2 linked regions of the Homo sapiens genome follow. The protein of the gene in region 1 interacts with the protein of each later gene in a biochemical or structural test. Each region holds a gene or a part of one and is shown on either strand. Other genes may lie near its edges. The genes, in order: EIF3B and PAIP1.

The links.
Region 2: the proteins of EIF3B (region 1) and PAIP1 form a complex in vitro, tested with the Homo sapiens proteins (one study listed by BioGRID).

The regions. Positions count from the first base shown.
Region 1 is NC_000007.14:2,357,827-2,368,665, reverse strand, and holds part of EIF3B (eukaryotic translation initiation factor 3 subunit B), read right to left. Parts: intron 7,957-10,839; coding exon 7,764-7,956; intron 6,022-7,763; coding exon 5,902-6,021; intron 5,597-5,901; coding exon 5,539-5,596; intron 5,035-5,538; coding exon 4,906-5,034; intron 4,295-4,905; coding exon 4,137-4,294; intron 2,350-4,136; coding exon 2,218-2,349; intron 2,142-2,217; coding exon 2,075-2,141; intron 1,733-2,074; coding exon of another isoform or gene 1,709-1,732; exon of another isoform or gene 1,694-1,708; intron 1,668-1,693; coding exon 1,621-1,667; intron 1-1,620.
Region 2 is NC_000005.10:43,554,078-43,561,296, forward strand, and holds the start of PAIP1 (polyadenylate-binding protein-interacting protein 1), read right to left. Parts: upstream 3,001-7,219; 5' UTR 2,770-3,000; coding exon 2,505-2,769; intron 1,923-2,504; coding exon 1,753-1,922; intron 1-1,752. UniProt on the Homo sapiens protein: Acts as a coactivator in the regulation of translation initiation of poly(A)-containing mRNAs. Its stimulatory activity on translation is mediated via its action on PABPC1. Competes with PAIP2 for binding to PABPC1.

The sequences.
Region 1 (10,839 bases):
CTTAAAAGGCTGGAAACCCCACCCTCCTCAGTTTCTAGATCAAAGACGAGGTAGATGGAAGGAAGCCGACTCAAGGCTCTGGCCTTGAAAATTCATTTCTAGGCACGGGAAGGGGTCACTGAAGTGGTGCCTCAAGGGTGGCGGGCCCAATGCTGAGCAGCCTTGCTGCCCACTGACTCAAGCCTCCATCCTTGTGTCCAGAACAAACTCACCTTAGGCCGGGCGCGGTGGCTCACACCTGTAATCCCTGCACTTTGAGAGGCTGAGGCGGGCAGGCGGATCACTTGAGGTCAGGAGTTCGAGACCAGCCTGGCCAACATGGTGAAACCCCGACTCTTCTAAAATATACAAAAAATTAGCTGGGCGTAGTGGTTGCGCGCCTGTAATTCCAGCTACTCAGGAGACTGAAGCACCAGAATCGTTTGAACCTGGGAGGTGAAGGCTGCAGTCAGCCGAGATCACGCCACTGTACTCCAGCCTGGGCAACAGAGTAAGACTCTGTCTCAAAAAAGATTTAAAAATGGCTGGGTGTGGTGGCTCACGCCAGTAATCCCAGCACTTTGGGAGGCTGAGGTGGGCAGATCACTTGAGGTCAGGAGTTCTGAGACCAGCATGGCCAACACAGTGAAACCCCATCTCTACTAAAAATACAAAAATTAGCTAGGCATGGTGGCAGGCACCTGCAGTCCCAGCTACTTGGGAGTCTAAGGCAAGGAGAATCACTTGAACCCAGGAGGTGGAAATTGCAGTGAGCCAAGATCTCGCCACTCTACACCAGCCTGCAAGACAGAGTAAGACTCTGCCTCAAAAAAAAAAAAAAAAAAAAAAAAAAAAAAAAAATTTTAAAAAAAGAACAAACTCACCGTTTTCTCTCCAACTGGTTAAGAACTGAGTGACAGGCTGGGCATGGTGGCTCACGCCTGTAATCTCAGCACTTTGGGAGGCTGAGGCGGGCAGATCACAAGGTCAGGAGTTTGAGACCAGCCCAGCCAACATGGTGAAACCCCATCCCTACTAAAAATACAAAAATTAGCCGGGCTTGGTGGCACATGCCTGTAGTCCCAGCTACTCGGGAGGTTGAGGCAGAAGAATCACTTGAACCCAGGAGGTGGAGGTTGCAGCGAGCCAAGATCGTATCACTGCACTCCAGCCTGACGGAGCGAGACTCTGTCTCTAACAACAACAACAAAAAGCTGAGTGCTAAAGGAGAGACAGCAAATAAAGGAAACCAACTGCAATGGACCACGTCTGTGTCCCCCAGATTCACAGGGTGAAATTCTAACCCCCTGGGGTGACGGCATGGGGTGGGGCCTTTTGGGGGGTGGGAGGTCCTGAGGGGGAAGCCCTTGGGAATGAGATGAGAGACTTTACAGAACAGGCCACGGAGGCCTTCCTCCAGGGAAGGCTGGACCGAGGGGCTGTCCACTAGGAGGGAGGTGGGCCGTCACCAGACAGTCTGCAGGCACCCTGACCTCAAGCTCCCAAGCTCCAGAACTGGGAGAAAGAAATCTCAGCTGTCATAAGCCACCCAGCCTATGGTATTGTGTTTTTTTTTTTTTTTTTGGTATTGTGTTAAGCAGCCTGAACACACTAAGACACCAAACTGATAAGAATACTCACTTTATCCCAGAGATCTTCAAACTCTTCTTGTCCAAAAGACCCATAGACTGCCCAAAAAAAAGGAAGGCTGCAGTTGAGTCAAATCATGTCAGTGTCTCAGAAACACACCTAACTTTTTACAAAAGGAAACAAGAGTCTGATGTGAGTTTGCCTAGGGGGCAGTGCACACAGAGCGTGACAGTGAACCCATCCACCCACCCGCCACCCAGAACTGCAGTTCTGAAGCCCACTGCATTAACTCCCATCCAGGACTTCCCACGGCTGCGCCAGGTGGGCAGGAGTGACTGAAGAGCTCTGCCCAGAGCAGGGGCAGTTAAAAAGGCACAGGAGACAGGCCTTTCCTATGCATCTGTGAAACCTCCTCCTCCTCTTCTAGCACAAATAAGGAAAGGCACCACACCCCGGTTACAAGCAAGGACCGGACGGGGCGTTTGCCATCACTGAGGCCACTTACAGGAGTTTCATAGATGCTAAGCGTATCCAGGGTCATTCTGGCAAAGAATTTGCCATCATGGCTCCACCTAAGAAAAACAAAAGTGCCAGGGTATTCCCATGAAAAGACAAAGGCTACAGAGCTCGTTACAATGGTCCACTTACTTAAAAATAGGCCAATGGGCTGAGCTCTCACAGTGAAAACCCCTCTTCTTGTGCCCCGTAAGGATGTCCCAGATGATTATGGCCTGAGGGTCATCCTGCGTGTCCATCAGGGGGCTAAAGGTCACCAGGTACCTAGAAGAGAAGGGCAACACTGTACACTATCCTCCTCTCACGAGAGGATCACAGTCTGTCTGTGCGGCCAGAACACGCCGTCAGAACTCGCGGAACCAGCTCTCTCCCCAAACCCCACACTGCCCGGCCCCAAGAGACCCAAGCGGAAGCGGGAAGCAGCGGCGCTTGTTCATTCTGGTGTCAATACGCTGCAGGCGCTCCGGTTTCTCCAAGATCAGCACAGAAGATCTCACCGATCCCACACAAGGCTGCTAAGTGATCCAGAGGGTGGCGCAGTGTGGAACTCTATCTTTACCCATGTTTAATAAAGACTAACAAGTTAAAAAAATACGGCTGGGCGCAGTGGCTCACACCTGTAATCCCAGCACTTTGGGAGGCCGAGGTGGGTGGATCACCCAAGGTCCGGAGTTTAAGACAAGCTTGGCCAACCATGGCCGACATGGTGAGACCCTGTCTCTACTAAAAATACAAAAATTAGCCGGGCGTGGTGGCAGGCACTTGTAATCCCAGCTACTCAGGAGGCTGAGGCAGGAGAATAGCTTGAACCCGGGAGGTGGAGGTTGCAGTGAACTGGTATCGTGCCACTACATTCCAGTCTGGGCGACGCATGAAACTCAGTTTCAAAAAAAAAAAAAACAAAACAAACAAACAAACAAACAAACAAAAAAACAAGTCCCATCCAGTTCGAAAGCCAGCACAGGTCTGATAGAAACTTCAGAGCCTGGGGGCTCCTCCCAGCCATGATTTACCTGACTGCTGGCTTGTCTGGAGCTACTGCACCTGCTTACTCAGTTCACACAAAGTGTGTAACAGACGGTCCCTTACAACACCAGAGGGGAAGGCAGACACAACCCATGAGGGCGAAAACAGAGCGGCCCCAGCTCGCCTCGCACTGCCTTCCACAACTGCCCCTTTCCCTAGAGTGGCCCCCGTTCGCCTCACACTGCCTTCCACAACTGTCCCTTTCCCTAGAGTGGCCCCAGCTCGCCTCACACTGCCTCCCACAACCGCCCCTTTCCCTAGCAGGCCTCCGACAGCCGGATTAGCTAGATCAAAAATCACGGCTCGGCCAGGTGCGGTGGCTCACGCCTGTAATCCCAGCACTCTGGGAGGTCAAGGCAGGAGATCACTTGAGCCCAGGGGTTCAAGACTACCTTGTACAACAAAGTGAGACCCCCATCTCTACAAAAAATAAAATTAGCCATATGTCATGGCGTGTGCCTGCGGTCCCCGCTACTCAGGAAGGCTGAGGTGGGAGAACCGCTTGACCTGGGAGGCTGGGGTTGCAATGAGCCTGCAATGGTGCCACTGGGTGGCGCCAAGCCTGGGTGATAGAGGAAGGACAATTTATTATCTGTAAAATACGTGACCTTAGACTAGATCCTGAACTGAAGGAAAGTAAGTATTATACAGAACATTATTAGGTCAAGTAACAAAATCAGAATATGGCAATACATTGAAGTATTAAATGAATGGTAAATCCCTGAAGTCAGTACCCACACTATGGTCACACTAACAAAATCCTATTTCTAGGAATACACATTCAGGGCTAAAGGGACATGTTATTTCAACTCACTCCCAAATGGCTCAGGAAAAAATATCTGTATAGGAGATGATGACGTAAATGCAACCAAATGTGAGAAGATCTCAGTAAAAAGCTTATTAGCGTTCTGCATACTCCCGTATTTTTCTACTAAGTTTGAAATGCTACAAAATGAAAGATCACCTGTAGAAGGCTGGCATGGGGTGAAATGCATAGACTCCCCTGTGTTTTTCTAGCAGCTTACCTTTCACAAGGTGAGAAGTCAATAAGCTGAACCCCTTGGTGGCTGAATCTCTGAATTTGCTTGAATTTCTCTCCCCCCCATAGAGCAATGCCTCTTTGATGAAAGGTAGCCAGGTAGGTGCCCTTAGGAGACCAACGCACATACGTCTCTGTCCATCTCTGCAGAAAAAGGCAGTGCCAACGTTAATACAACAAAATGGCAAACACAAAGACCCCTCCTACAATGAATTTATCCTACAATGAATCTGTTCTACAAACTTTTTTTTTTTTTGAGACGGAGTCTCGCTGTCTCCCAGGCTGGAGTGCAGTGGCGCAATCTCAGCTCACTGCAAGCTCCACCTCCCAGGTTCATGCCATTCTCCTGCCTCAGCCTCCCGAGTAGCGGGGACTACAGGTGCCTGCCACCATGCCCAGCTAATTTTTTTGTATTTTTAGTAGAGACGGGGTTTCACCGTGTTAGCCAGGATGGTCTCAATCTCCTGACCTCGTGATCCACCCACCTTGGCCTCCCAAAGTGCTGGGATTACAGGCGTGAGCCACCGCGCCCGGCCTATTCTGCAAACTCTTAAGTGAAATACACAAAGCCTGTTCACTTCTCAGGATTTACTTCAAAGCTGGAAGAGGAATAAAAGAAGTTGTTTTCAGAAAGTAATCTCAAAGAAAATATAACGTCACCTGCTCTTCCAGTTTTCTGATAGAAACAAAGTTCCACTTTGTTAAGGAAATACAGGAGAGGTGAGTCCCCGCCCCCAGCAGCAGCAAATACACACCGCTCTTTCTTCAATTGAGACAGGGTCTTTTACGTCATTCCAGAATATGGAAGTGCGGTCTCCACTCTCAAAAATCACACTGTACTGATCTCTGCATTCTGCCTCTTCAAGCCAGTAACGTAAGTTCCCCTTAAAAACAAAGACAAGGAATATAACATTTCATTAATTTTAATAAAAAACTCATTCACAACTATTGCTCTTAAAGATATGACAAGTTCAGTCCACATCTTAACTCCCAAGTCACACCCTAACCTCAAGTCAAGACACCGTCTAGCATTTCTTTTTTTTTTGAGACAGAGTCACGCTGTTGCCCAGGCTGGAGTCCAGTGGCACAATCATAGCTCACGGCAGCCTCAACCTCCCAGGCTCAACCTCCCAGGCTCAAGTGATCCTCCCCCCTCAGCCTCCCAGGTAGCTGGGAATACAGGTGCATGCCAGGCCCAGCTAATGTATGTATTTATTTACTTTTTGTAGAGGCGGGGGTCTCACTTTGTTGCCCAGGCTGGTCTTGAATTCCTGGGCTTAAGCGATCCTCCCACCTCAGCCTCCCTAAGTGCTGGGATTGCAGGTGTGACCCACCACACCCAGCAGCATTTCTTTAAACCACTGAGATGTAGGTTTCAGGCCACTCACCAGGTCTTTGAAAGGCTGTTTCTCTGGAATATCCCACTCGTCACTGATCGTCATATACCTGGAGAAGAAAGGAGACTGCTGAGCCCCACGCCCTGACGACTAGAAAGAGCAACTCGTGGGGGCTCCAGCATGGCCCTGCTGTGCTCCTGCCTGCCCGCCCCCAGGGCTGTGACTGGCATAACAGGGAGGGGTGCTGTAGGCCAGAAGTGTGGGGCAGGGCTGTGAAATGGCTCTGCGGCAGCCTGACCAGAAAGGATGTGAACAATCTGACAGACACCAGCACCGAGAAGCACCAAGCCACCCGCACACAGCCAGTCACTTGCACGTCAACGTCCACTTCCTTGTGGCCAAGTCTGAACTCACTTGTCAAAATCCGTAAAGAGGTTGACCCGGAATGTGTGCTGCTTGTCAAGCTTGTAGCCGTCGGCGTTCTTCACAGCATCCACAGCGTGGGCAGGGGACGCGTACTCCAGGAAAATATACCTGAGTGAGAGAGGGCCGTTGGCACATACCCACACTGTAAGGCTAGGCAGGTATGCGCTGTCCGCCCCACCCCTCTCCACGGACAAGCCCTCGGTGCCAGGAGTATCTGTGCTGCTCTTCCTGCCTCGAGCCTAAGGCAGTCACACGGGGGACAGATCCACAGCCAGGGAGCTCCTAAGTGACAGGGAAATCCTAACCAGAAGATCCGAAGTCTCTAGTTTCATTATCATAATTATAGAAAAGTTAATCAAAACGTCCATTATTTTGACTGTGGCGATGGTTTCGTGATATGTACACATCAAAATGTATTAAATTGTACGCTTTAAAACTATGCAGATTTACTGTATATCAATTATCTCAATAAAGCTGTTTAAAAAAAAATCTTGGCTGGGCGCAATGGTTCACACCTGTAATCCCAGCACTTTGGGAGGCCAAGGTGGGCAGATCACTTGAGGTCAGGAGTTCGAGACCAGCCCGGCCAACATGGTGAAACCCTGTCTCTGCTAAATATACAAAAATTAGCCGGGCATGGTGGCACATGCTTATAATCCCAGCTACTCAGGAGGCTAAGGCAGGAGAATTGCTTGAGCCTGGGAGGCGGAGGTTGCAGTGAGCCAAGATCGTGCCACTGCACTCCAGCCTGGGTGACAGAGCAAGACTCTGTCTCAATAAATAAATAAATAAATAAATAAGCAAGCAAGCAAGCCAGGCGTGGTAGTGTGCGCCTGTAATCCCGGCTACTTGGGAGGGTGGGGCAGGAGAATTGCTTGAACCCGGGAGGCGGAGGTTGCAGTGAGCTGAGATCACACCACTGCACTCCAGCCTGGGCAAGAGTGAGACTGTCTCAAACAAACAAACAAACAAAAAAAACTTAAAAGTAGTCTAATATTGTGTATTACAGGCAAGATTAGAAAGAAGCTCAGAGAGGCCGGGCGCGGTGGCTCAGGCCTGTAATCCCAGCACTTTGGGAGGCCGAGGCGGGTGGATCACAAGGTCAGGAGATCGAGACCATTCTGGCTAACATGGTGAAACCCCGTCTCTACTAAAAATACAAAAAATTAGCCGGGCGTGGTAGCGGGCGCCAGTAGTCCCAGCTACTAGGGAGGCTGAGGCGGGAGAATAGTGTGAACCTGGGAGGCGGAGCTTTCAGTGAGCCGAGATTGCGACACTGCACTCCAGCCTGGGCGACAGAGCGAGACTCCGACTCAAAAAAAAGAAAGAAAGAAAGAACCTCAGAGAATGTTTCATTATAACACGAGTAACTGAGGGTCAAGAGGCCATCCTTCAACTGACTGCCCAACACAGAAAATGCAGCAGCATTACCTGTATTTGATAATTCTAGAAACTAAAACTATTCTAGTTAGTTTTTACTTTATTTATTTATTTTAGAGACAGAGTCTTGCTCTGTCACCCAGACTGGAGTACAGCTACGTTATCATAGCTCACTGCAGCCTCCAACTCCTGGCCTCAGGCTTCAAGAGTGTTGGGAGTTTATGCATAAGCCACCATGCTGGCCTATTCTAGATAATTTTAAAAACTTTAAAACCTTAACTTAAAAAAACAAACTTTATCATCTTCTCATTCACTGCTCTGGATAGCTTCCAGCTGAGGGCGGCCTGAAGAAGTGAACGGCCCACGTGCCTGGGCAAGGCAGGAGCTGTGTTAGTAAGGATCTCCTGCAACACTCCCTCATCATGACGTGCCAGACACAGATGATACTTCTCCAACAGGAGAACACTCACCCTTTTGTCTTCCCATCCTCTTCAGGATAAAAATCATTTGTGATTTTCCCAAACTTGGAAAAGATCTTGTGGATGACATTTTTGAGTTTCTCAAGTCGGTCGGGTCCCACCTGAGGGACATTGTCCACTACAATCACCGAATCGATTCCATCTGCTTCCTGGGGCCGATCTTTGAGTACATCTCCCAGTAATTCTGAACAAGAGAGATTTTTCAAATGATCATTTTTACCAAGAAAAACATTAATACATTAACTGAGCACACTAAACAAGTCTTCAAGAAGAGACAATGAATTGTCTAAATGCTTTCACTGTGAGCAAAAGAAATCCTAACCCTAGCTTGTTTCAGATTTTAAACATGACAGCTGGGGGGACTGGAACTCTCCTCTCTCCCTTTGATGGAAATGTAAACAGTCAAGACAGGTCAATTAAGTTCTGGTAATAACCAAAGACTACAGGAGAATAACAGTGAAAAGCTTTTAACAATGCACAATGCAAATGAAGAAGACCATCTCAAGAATATCCACTATTAGATCTTCCAGAGATGCCTAGATTTTGAAAGGTTTGTTGCAACATCTAGGCAGGCAGAATCCCATCCCAATGTCAATGAAAACTGACTTTTTACAGAAGATTTTAGCAAACAAGTAAATATTTAAATGCTCAATATATTCACAGCACATTTGTGCTGTGAATACAAATTACCAGAAATTATTCAAGGAGGAACCCTCTCTCGAGTGAACTGGGATGAAAGTAGTAACTCTTCTCCCACCTCCTGTTCCCAGTGATTTTCATGTTTTCAGGCCGTGAACTGGATGGCCATTCACAGGGGATGGGGAAAAAACCCAAAGAGGAAGCGCGTCTGGGGTGAGCTTCCCCACCTCTCTCCGCTGCAGAGCCCACCACCACGCACCTTCGTTCAGAACAATCTTTACCCAATATTCCTTAGGTTAAAAAGCTCTAAGGATAAACAACTGAACTGCAGGAGACAGGGATGTGACAGTGTCTTTCCTACTCACGTAACACTCAACACAACGCCTGACACCGGACGTGGGTGTCGCATCAAGCAGTTCTCCAGGGGCCACCAGCTGGGTGTCCTCTAACTTAATCCAATTCAGACACTATCTACCAGGAATTAGCATCAGATCCCACAGGCTGAAGGCTCAGCCCCAAAGACTGGCCCCCATTTCAGATGGCAGTCGCAAGTAGTGGGCTGTCACCTCCGGTTCTGACCGACAGGCTACAAAGCAGGGCTCCCACTATCCCTCGCTTCTTGGGTTCCATTAATTTACTGCAGCAGCTTACAGAATTCAGAGAGCTAGGTTTGCCAGCTTATTATAACGGACGTTACAGAGGATATAGACGAAAAGGCAGATGGAGGAGAAGCGCAGAGCCTCCCTGTGCTCTCCAGGCCACCACCCTGCAGAAGCCTCCACCTGTTCCGCTGCATGGAGCCCCTGAACCTGGTCCTTTTGGGTTTCTATGAAGATCTCATTATAGAGGCGTGATTAATGACATCACTGAGCACCGGTGATCAACTCAACTTTCAGCCCTCTTCCTTCTGGGTGGCAGGGGGAGACCTAAAAGGTCCCACCCTCTAATCACGTGGTTGGTTCCCTGGCAAGGAGCCCCAGCCATCAATCAAGTCCTCGTCTACAAAAAGACACTTACCACTTTGGAAATTACAAGGGTTTAGACGCTGAGTGCCAAGAGCCAGGCAGAGCCCAAATACACATTTCTTAATTATATCACAAAGAGCCTTTTTGAAAAACACTATCAGGGCAGAGACCGGCACTTAAACTAGGAGACTGGAGAATATACAAGCTCCTGAAACAACTTTTTTTTTTCTTTGTAAAGAGACAGGGTCTTGTTATGCTGCCCAGGCTAGCCTGGAACTCCTGGGCTCTAGCAATCCTCCTGCCTCAGCCTCCCAAGTAGCAGGGACTACAGGTGGGAGCTGCCACCCCCACTGAGATTAAATAACAGTATTTTTTTCTTAGTGGTAGGTGAAGCTGTTCTTGATGTGATGAAATGCCTCGCAGGGCTGCTGGAAAGCATCACGTGTCAGAATTTAGAACACGGCCAGGCTCAGTGGCTCACGCCTGTAATCCCAGCATTTTGGGAGGCCGAGGCAGGCAGATTACCTGAGGCCAGGAGTTCAAGACCAGCCTGGCCAACATGGTGAAACCTGTCCCTAATAAAAATACGAGAAAAATGATCCAAGCATGGTGGTGGGTGCCTGTAATTCCAGCTACTGGAGAGGCTGGGGCAGGAGAATCGCTTGAACCCAGGAGATGGAGGTTGCAGTGAGCCAAGATCATGCCACTGCACTCCAGCCTGGGAGACAGAGTGAGACTCCATCTCAAATAATAATAATAATGATAATTCCAACATACTAAATATGCAGATGTCCGAAAATATTCTTTACTGTATTTATTCTCAAAAGTTGGCTGGGCATGGTGGCTCACTCCAGCGACAGAGCAAGACTCCGTCTCAAAAAAACACTTTCGGAAATATTGAAAACTGACCCAGCATGGTGGCTCACGCCTGTAATCCCAGCATTTTTGGAAGCCAAGGAAGGCAAATCACATGAGGCCAGGAGTTCGAGACCAGCCTGGCCAACAAGGCAAAACCCCATCTGTATTAAAAATACAAAAAGTAGCCAGGCATGGTGGCACATGCTTATAATCCCAGCTACTTGGGAGGCTGAGGCAGGAAAATCGCTTGAAGCGGGGAGGCAGAGGCTGCGGTGAGCCATTGCACTCCAGTCTGAGCAAGAGAATGAGACTCTGTCTCAAAAAAAAAAAGGAAATATTGAAAATACTGCCTTAAAAAATAATCGCCGTTTTATTTTCAACGATGCTAAAATTGAGACGAACAAGAGAAAAAAAAAGGGAAAAAGGCAGTTGCCAGTCACTGCAGTGCCGGACACCCTGCTATGGAAACTAGTCAAATCCTAGGGTAACTTCTAAAGCACTTACCATACAATTAAATAGCCTGACAAGCCTGATCTGAATTTATAAGGCTGCAATAAAAAGCTCAACTTTTACACAAATTGGGTACTCCTTCCCACAAGCTCAAA
Region 2 (7,219 bases), on another chromosome or scaffold:
TAGAGGATGGCAAGGAATGCCTAAAAGATGCAGTGGCTCAAAGTAGGTGGACTAACATGACTTTATATACTGCTCGACAGCCCCAAAGTCACTTGAACCACGTAAAAATAGTTGATACACGATTATTACATACACAAACACACCCCTGTATCCCTCCATCATAAAACAGCCCAAGTCAATAGGGAAGAAAATAAATGGGAACCTGCTTGTAGCTGCTAGAACAAGCATCCTTAAGAGTTTATTCAACCTCTTACAGTGGCTCTAATGGTTCTTTTCCTCTGTGAGCTAAATACAATTTTCTGGCAAGAACTCAAGATGCTCTCATTTCTACCTTACACGATAGATGGCCTTTTTCACCCCATATCAATTGCTTTTCCTGCTATGCCTGTATCTTTTTCTTTCCAATCCCAAAGCTTTTTCCTATACAGCATAAGAATCATGGAGTATCTAAAACATGGAACACAGCTTTTTCCATACTTTTACTGTCAAATATGGAAGGAGAGCCAAAAAGAGGTAATAAAAAAGGTGTGTCATTATCAGTTATAAGGGAAATATAAATTAAAACCACAACTAGATACTATATGCCCACCAGAATGGTTAAACAGAAAATACCAAGTGCCGACCAGGAAGCAGAGTAACTGGAAATCATACACTACTCAGAATGTACAGTGGAACAATCTCTGGAAAACTACTTGGCAGTCTCTGCTAAAGCTGGCTACCCTAAGTCCCAGCAACTCCATACCTTGGTAATATACCAAAAAGAAATAAAGGCATACAGCCAGCAAGACACAAAATGTGCCCTATTCATAATAACCCAAGAGTGAAAGCTACCAACGTTCATCAACAGACAAATGGGATATATTCATGCAATGGAATGTTATAAAAATAAGTCACCTCCAATTATATGCTACAATATGGAGTAATCTTGATATTGAAAGTGAGAAAGAATATATTCTATATGACTTTATTTATATAAACTTTGAACACAGGCAAAACTATCCTATGAAGTCAAAACAGTGCTATACTTGGACATCAAGAACAACTGGAAGGAGACAGAGTGGGTTTTCGGGATGTTGATAATGTTCTATTTCCTGACTGGGATGCTGGTTAGTTGAGTGTTCACTTTATGAGACTGAGCTAACACTTAAGTACACTATTCTCTGCTATACTTCAATAAAACTAAGAAGATAGGAAAGACAGGATTTAAGCTAAAGTATCATCAATCATTTCTCCAATGATTCCCTCCCACTTCTCTATAATTAATCCCTATGCATTTACTCATCTGGGTTTATCCAGTACAACAAATTCCTTTCTACATATTCCAACTGTGCTTTGTACGGCTATTTAAGAAAAGTGACTATTTTTTAAAGTTGTTATATAAGTGACAAAGAAAAACTGAAAGTTTAAACATTCTTTATACCTATGTAAATACTTTATCACAACCCCGTAGGACATTTCTGCATACAATAATTAGGATCAAAACTATGTCTATTTTAACATAATGGAATAATCACTAGAAACAAGAACACAGATGTGTATCTCAAGCTTACATTCTAATACCTTGAATATAACTACAAAATGTATTTCTGAATCAGCTTTGTTTCCTTCTGAGTTCAATAATTCAAAACATTCACAATAAAAAAATTTTTTTACGTGTAGTACAGAAAGCACAAACATACTCTGATTAACAAAGTAACAACCACATTATTCCAGTAAATTAACCCAGAGTTGTAGGAAAAAGGGTGTACTTACTGTGTAACTGGAAGAATAACCTGAAGGGTAAAATTCAGGGGCATTCACAGACAGCTTAGACATTAATACAGGAGCTACAACCACCTGGGGCTTAGCCATTGCTGACTCCGAGTTCTGCTGTGGGATTTTATCCTGTGAACTAGGTGGAGCTCTCAGGGGCCTCGTTTGCTCTGCAAAAGAAAAAAAAACGGGGCGTCAGATGCATTCTTTCCTTTGTACAGCAACTTGCTATATACTGAAAAACCATCTGAAAAGCGTCTGTTTTTAAGAGTTAAACAGGAACCATCATGAAATTTATGGTTATCGCCGGAATGTGTACAGACAGCCTACAAAAAGGAACAATAGACTTGCTGTGACTCCGTTATGGGCATACCTGCCTCTCAAATGAGTGCTTGCGAGCTTTTTTCCTCTCTGTCGTTTTAAAGGGGTCGGTGGAAAAGAGGTGGTTACTCGCTAGGGTCTCGCTTTAGAGGGCTGCTGAGGGGAGGCGATTTTTACTTCCTCCCGGGACCCCGAACTCCGAGACCGCGCACCCGGCCCCTCCCCCCAGCCAGGCGCACAAAGGATTCCAGCAGACACCTTCCAAACCCGGTTCCGGGCCCGTCCCTACCCGGTCACGCGGCCCTCTCGGGGAATGCTTTCGGGGAACCGGGGGTGGGGACCGCAGACAGCGCGTCGGGCCTCGGCACGCGTGGAGGGCCGTGGGGAAGCGTTCGCCAAGGAGGACTGGGGCCCTTAGAGCTGCTCCGTACCTGGGAGCGCCCCGGGCCGGGAAGGCCGCTGGGGGCTGGCGGGGACCTCGCACTGGGCCCCTGGCGGCGGGGTCGTCCTGGGCTGGCGCAGCGGCGGTGGCTGCAGGAAGCCCGGGGCTTTGGGTTGCGGCGGCTGGTGCCGCGCCCGCTCAGCAGGCCCCGCTCCGTTCGGGAAACCGCCGCCCTCAGGCCCGCCCCCTCCGCGGCCCAGGCCCCGGCTCCGGCCCCGACCAGCACCTGGGGCCCGATCGAAACCGTCCGACATGCTCCTCCTCCTCCGCCTCCTCCTCCAGGGGCCGCTGCCGCTGCGCTCGCGATAGGACGCGGGGGGAAGGCGCCGCGGGTCGGCTATAGCCGCCGCGCCTCACTCGGGCCTCATGGAGGAGGAGGGCGGCGGGCCCCGGCTCGGCTGCTCGGTGCTTCTGGCGGAGCGGACGGCAGCCCGAGCACCCGCCGCTCCAGAGCGCCCGCCCCGCTCGGCTACCCTCGGCTTTCCAGTTCTCCCCCAAAACCCGGCTCCCCGCCTTCGGCGCGGCAGGGGCGCAGGCGGGTCACAGCGGCCCCCTGCGGCCCGGAGGCCCGGGACGCGCCCGCGAGGATCCTCCAGTTCGCGGCTGGCCGGCCGCCGGGCCCAGCAGGCCGCCCGCCGAGTGGCGTCTTGGCCACCTGCCGGCCCGCAGCCAGGCTCGGGCAGGGGCATCTCGGTTCCGGGGCCAGGCTGGGGGGGATGAGGGATGAGGGGTGAGGGGGACGCTTACCACAGGCAGGCCCGACCTACTCGGTAGTTCTCAGGAGAGACGTGCGAGACCGACAGTTGACGCCCGGGAAATAAAAACACGGGGGGAGGGGGCGTGGACCCTGCGCCAGGGTTCGCTGGCGCACAGGTGTGTTCAATGACTCGGCTCCGGCCGAGACCCGCGGACTGCTGAGGAGTGGTCCCTGGGAGACTGTCACCTGCTCCGTTAGCATCGGGGGAAGGGAGTAGAAACGGAATCAAAATATGTGTCCCCTCTTTAATTCACCCTAGGTGTTTACCACAGTAGGTCACACCTACGTTTAACAAGCTTCGTTCTCTTCCCGTTAACCTTCCCCTCCAGAAATTTCAAGAAAATGTGCTACCTTTCAGTGTAACTCTGCCCTCTTTTTCATCTTGCATCAGTGCTGTCCAATGAAAATATAATGCGAGCCACAAATGCAAGCCACTTATGTAATTTTACATTTTGGAGAAGCCACATTAAATGAGTGAAAAGAAACAGGTGTGGCCAGGCGCAGTGGCTCACGCCTGTAATCCCAGCACTTTGGGAGGCCGAGGGGGGCGGATCACCTGAGGTCGGGAGTTCGAGACCAGCCAGACCAACATGGAGAAACCCCGTCTCTACTAAAAATACAAAGTTAGCCGGGCGTGGTGGCACATGCCTGTAATCCTAGCTATTCTGGAGGCTGAGGCAGGAGAATCGCTTGAACGCAGGAGGCAGAGGTTGCAGTGAGCCGAGATCGTACCGTTGCACTCCAGCCTGGGCAACAAGAGCCAAACTCTGTCTCAAAAAACAAAACAAAACAAAACAAAAACCAGGTGAAATTAATTTAAATTTATTTAATCCATTATGTTCAAAATGGTTTTTTAACATGCGATTTAAAATATTAAATATTTTCTCTGTTTTTTAGATACTAGTTGAAATCCAGTGTATATTTTACACTTATGGCACATCTTAGTCGGGATTGGCACATTTCAAGGGCTCAAGAGCCACATGTGGCTAGTGGCTACTGCGTTGCACAGCACAATTCTAGATTTTATTAATATGTAAATTGTTGTTTTTGTCAGGCCTGACAGTATTAATGCCAAATAAAGGATAGATGAATATAAGTAACGACAAGGAAGGAAAAATTGATTTCTTTACTGTTGGATTGATCCATCTCCATAAATTCTGATTTTAGCCTTTTGTTTTAAGCAGGGTTTCATGTTTTTCTATCTTTTCATCTTAAGAATCATTTCAATTAGGGACACAAACTCTTGTTAACCGTTTTCTCTTCTCATTAATAAAGAAAACAATGTCTTCCCCTAAACGAATGAGAAAATGGCTTCACCGAGGGCAATCATGAATAAATGGTTCATGCTATTGATGTTAGGCAAAATAATGAAGTCAGGGAAGGAAGCCAGCAGTACGTGTGGCTCTTCGGTGTACGGAAAGTTTAGGATTCAGTCTGCCAGAGCTTAGTTGGGATTCCACTCTTGACTATTGCTGTCTGTGTGATTTTGAGTAAGTAAGGGGTTTAGCTTCTCTGAGCCTCACTTTCCTCATCTGTAAAATAATAACTGTGTGGTAACACTCAGCATATATTGCAGAGACAAGATTACAATTTAAAAATTACAATTTTAATATTTTCAAATTCATTATTGTATGTGGTCACCAGTCACTTCTTGCCTGGACTTTTTTATCATACAGGAAAGACCCATAAACTATGCTAAAAAACTAACAATGAGTTATGTTCCACTGAAGTAGATGCCCCAACTCTGCCCCAAGCTTTTGTTTGCACTCACCACCTTTTCATTTCCCCTTAAAACTTTTATGATGAACAGCACCTTTTCTAACAACTGGGACTTTCCCATGTGAAGATAAGGCCATTCTGCATCCATGGTGATGTCACGACATCTTCACACCCTCTTGTTAGGAAAATTAGGTAAGATATCCTTTGCCTTCTCTGTATTTGTTACTGTATAACTTTTGCCCTATTCTTATAATGTGTGGATGGTGGACTTGGAGATAACACGAATGGATTTTGCATCATGATAATAAAAATATCTAATATTTATTATGCGTCAGTCACCTTTTAAGAGCTTTTATTTTATCATTTTATTTTATCCTCATATCCTGTGAGATAGACATTCCAATATTTTCACTTTACATAAAAGGTGCCAAGATACCGCAAGGGCTCAGATCCATCTTGGGACTGTTTTAGAGCTAACTGGCAGGTATTGCAAAATGCATAGACAGAAACACATGAACGTGTGAACACCATGTGGAACTCCCTAAAGAGAATCATCAAAGTGCTCCTCATCCACGTGTATGCCTTTTTTATTAATTTATGGTGAAAGGAGAGTAGAACTAAATTTGGACAAATTGGAAAATATGTTGTAATATGGAAAAGGACCTGCTGTGAACTATGAAAAAAATGTTTCCTTAAACTGTACTTGAAAGGCATTCTCCAGTAAGACTTCCCAAGCTGCCTAATCTTAGATTCTCTCCCTTGTGATAAGTATACCCTGGGAAAACTGTCTTGGTACTTAGCATGCCAGATTGTTATCGTTAGTATTTGGTTTATTTAAATGTCTCCTTCCCTAAACTAGCCCTCTGAAGACAGAGGATGCCTTTTAATCCTTTAGGTCCAACCCAGTACTTAGTCCATAATAAGCTTTTAACAGAAATAGGACTCACCTGCAATGGTCCTGCCTTTCCTTAGGTCACCAGTCTAGTGATGGTAAAAAAAAAAAAAAAAAAAAAAAGACTGTTTTTTTAGAACTTATTGACCTCAGGATCATCATTAGACCTTATGGGAGTAGACAGTACAGCCTTCAAGGCCAGCTAACAGGAGAAAATTTTCATAAATATGCAAGAGGAAATATTTGCAAACCACATGGTATAGTTTGTATATTTGACCCTCCAAGCCTCCTGTTGAAACTTGATCCTGAATGTTGGAGGTGGGGCCTAATGGAAGGCGTTTGGGTCATGGTGGCAGATTCCTCATGAATGGCATGGTGCCATTCTCACAGTAACGAATGAGTTATGGTTTTACTAGTTCCCAAGGAGTTTCCCCAAGAGCTGGTTGTTGAAAAGAGCCTGGCACACTCCCCCTGTCTCATGCTTCCTCTCTTGCCATGTAATCTCTGCACACTGTCTCCCCTTCACTTTCTGCCATGCATAGAAGCAGGCTGAAGCCCTCACCAGAAGCAGATGTTGGTGCCATGCTTCTAGTACAGCCTGCAGAATAGTGAGCCAAATGAAACCCTTTTCTTTATAAATTACCCAGCCTCAGCTATTCCTTTATAGCAACAAAAATGGATGAAGGCACCACATATTTGACAAAAGACTTGTATCTAGAATATATAAAGTACTCTCAGAACTCAACTGTATTGAGAGTACTATAGCCAGGTGCGATCCCAGCACTATGGGAGGCTGAGGCGGACAGATTACCTGAGGTCAGGAGTTCGAGACCAACCTGGACAACATGTGAAACCCCGTCTCTACTAAAAATACAAAAATTAGCAGGCATGGTGATGCGTGCTTGTAATCCCAGCTACTTGGGAGGCTGAGGCAGGGGAATCGCTTGAACCCGGGAGGCAGAGGTTGCAGTGAGCCGAGATTGCACCACTGCACTCCAGCCTGGGTTGAGCGTGACTCCGTCTGAAAAAAACCCAAACAAACAAAACACCTAACTCAACTGTAAAAGGACAGTTCAGTTAGAAAAGGGCCAAACATAAATGAAAGAACACTTCACTGAAGGGAATATACAGATAGCATAAGCCTATGAAAAATGTTCAACATAATTAGCCAGTAGGAAAATTTTTTTAAAACCACTGAGATTTCACTACCTACTTATTCGAATAGCTTAAATAAACAATAGTGACAATGCAAATTCAAGGATGTAGAGAAACTAGGAACTGTGTTGCTCATACATTGCTGGTGAGAATGTAAAATGCTATAGTCACTTTAGAAAAC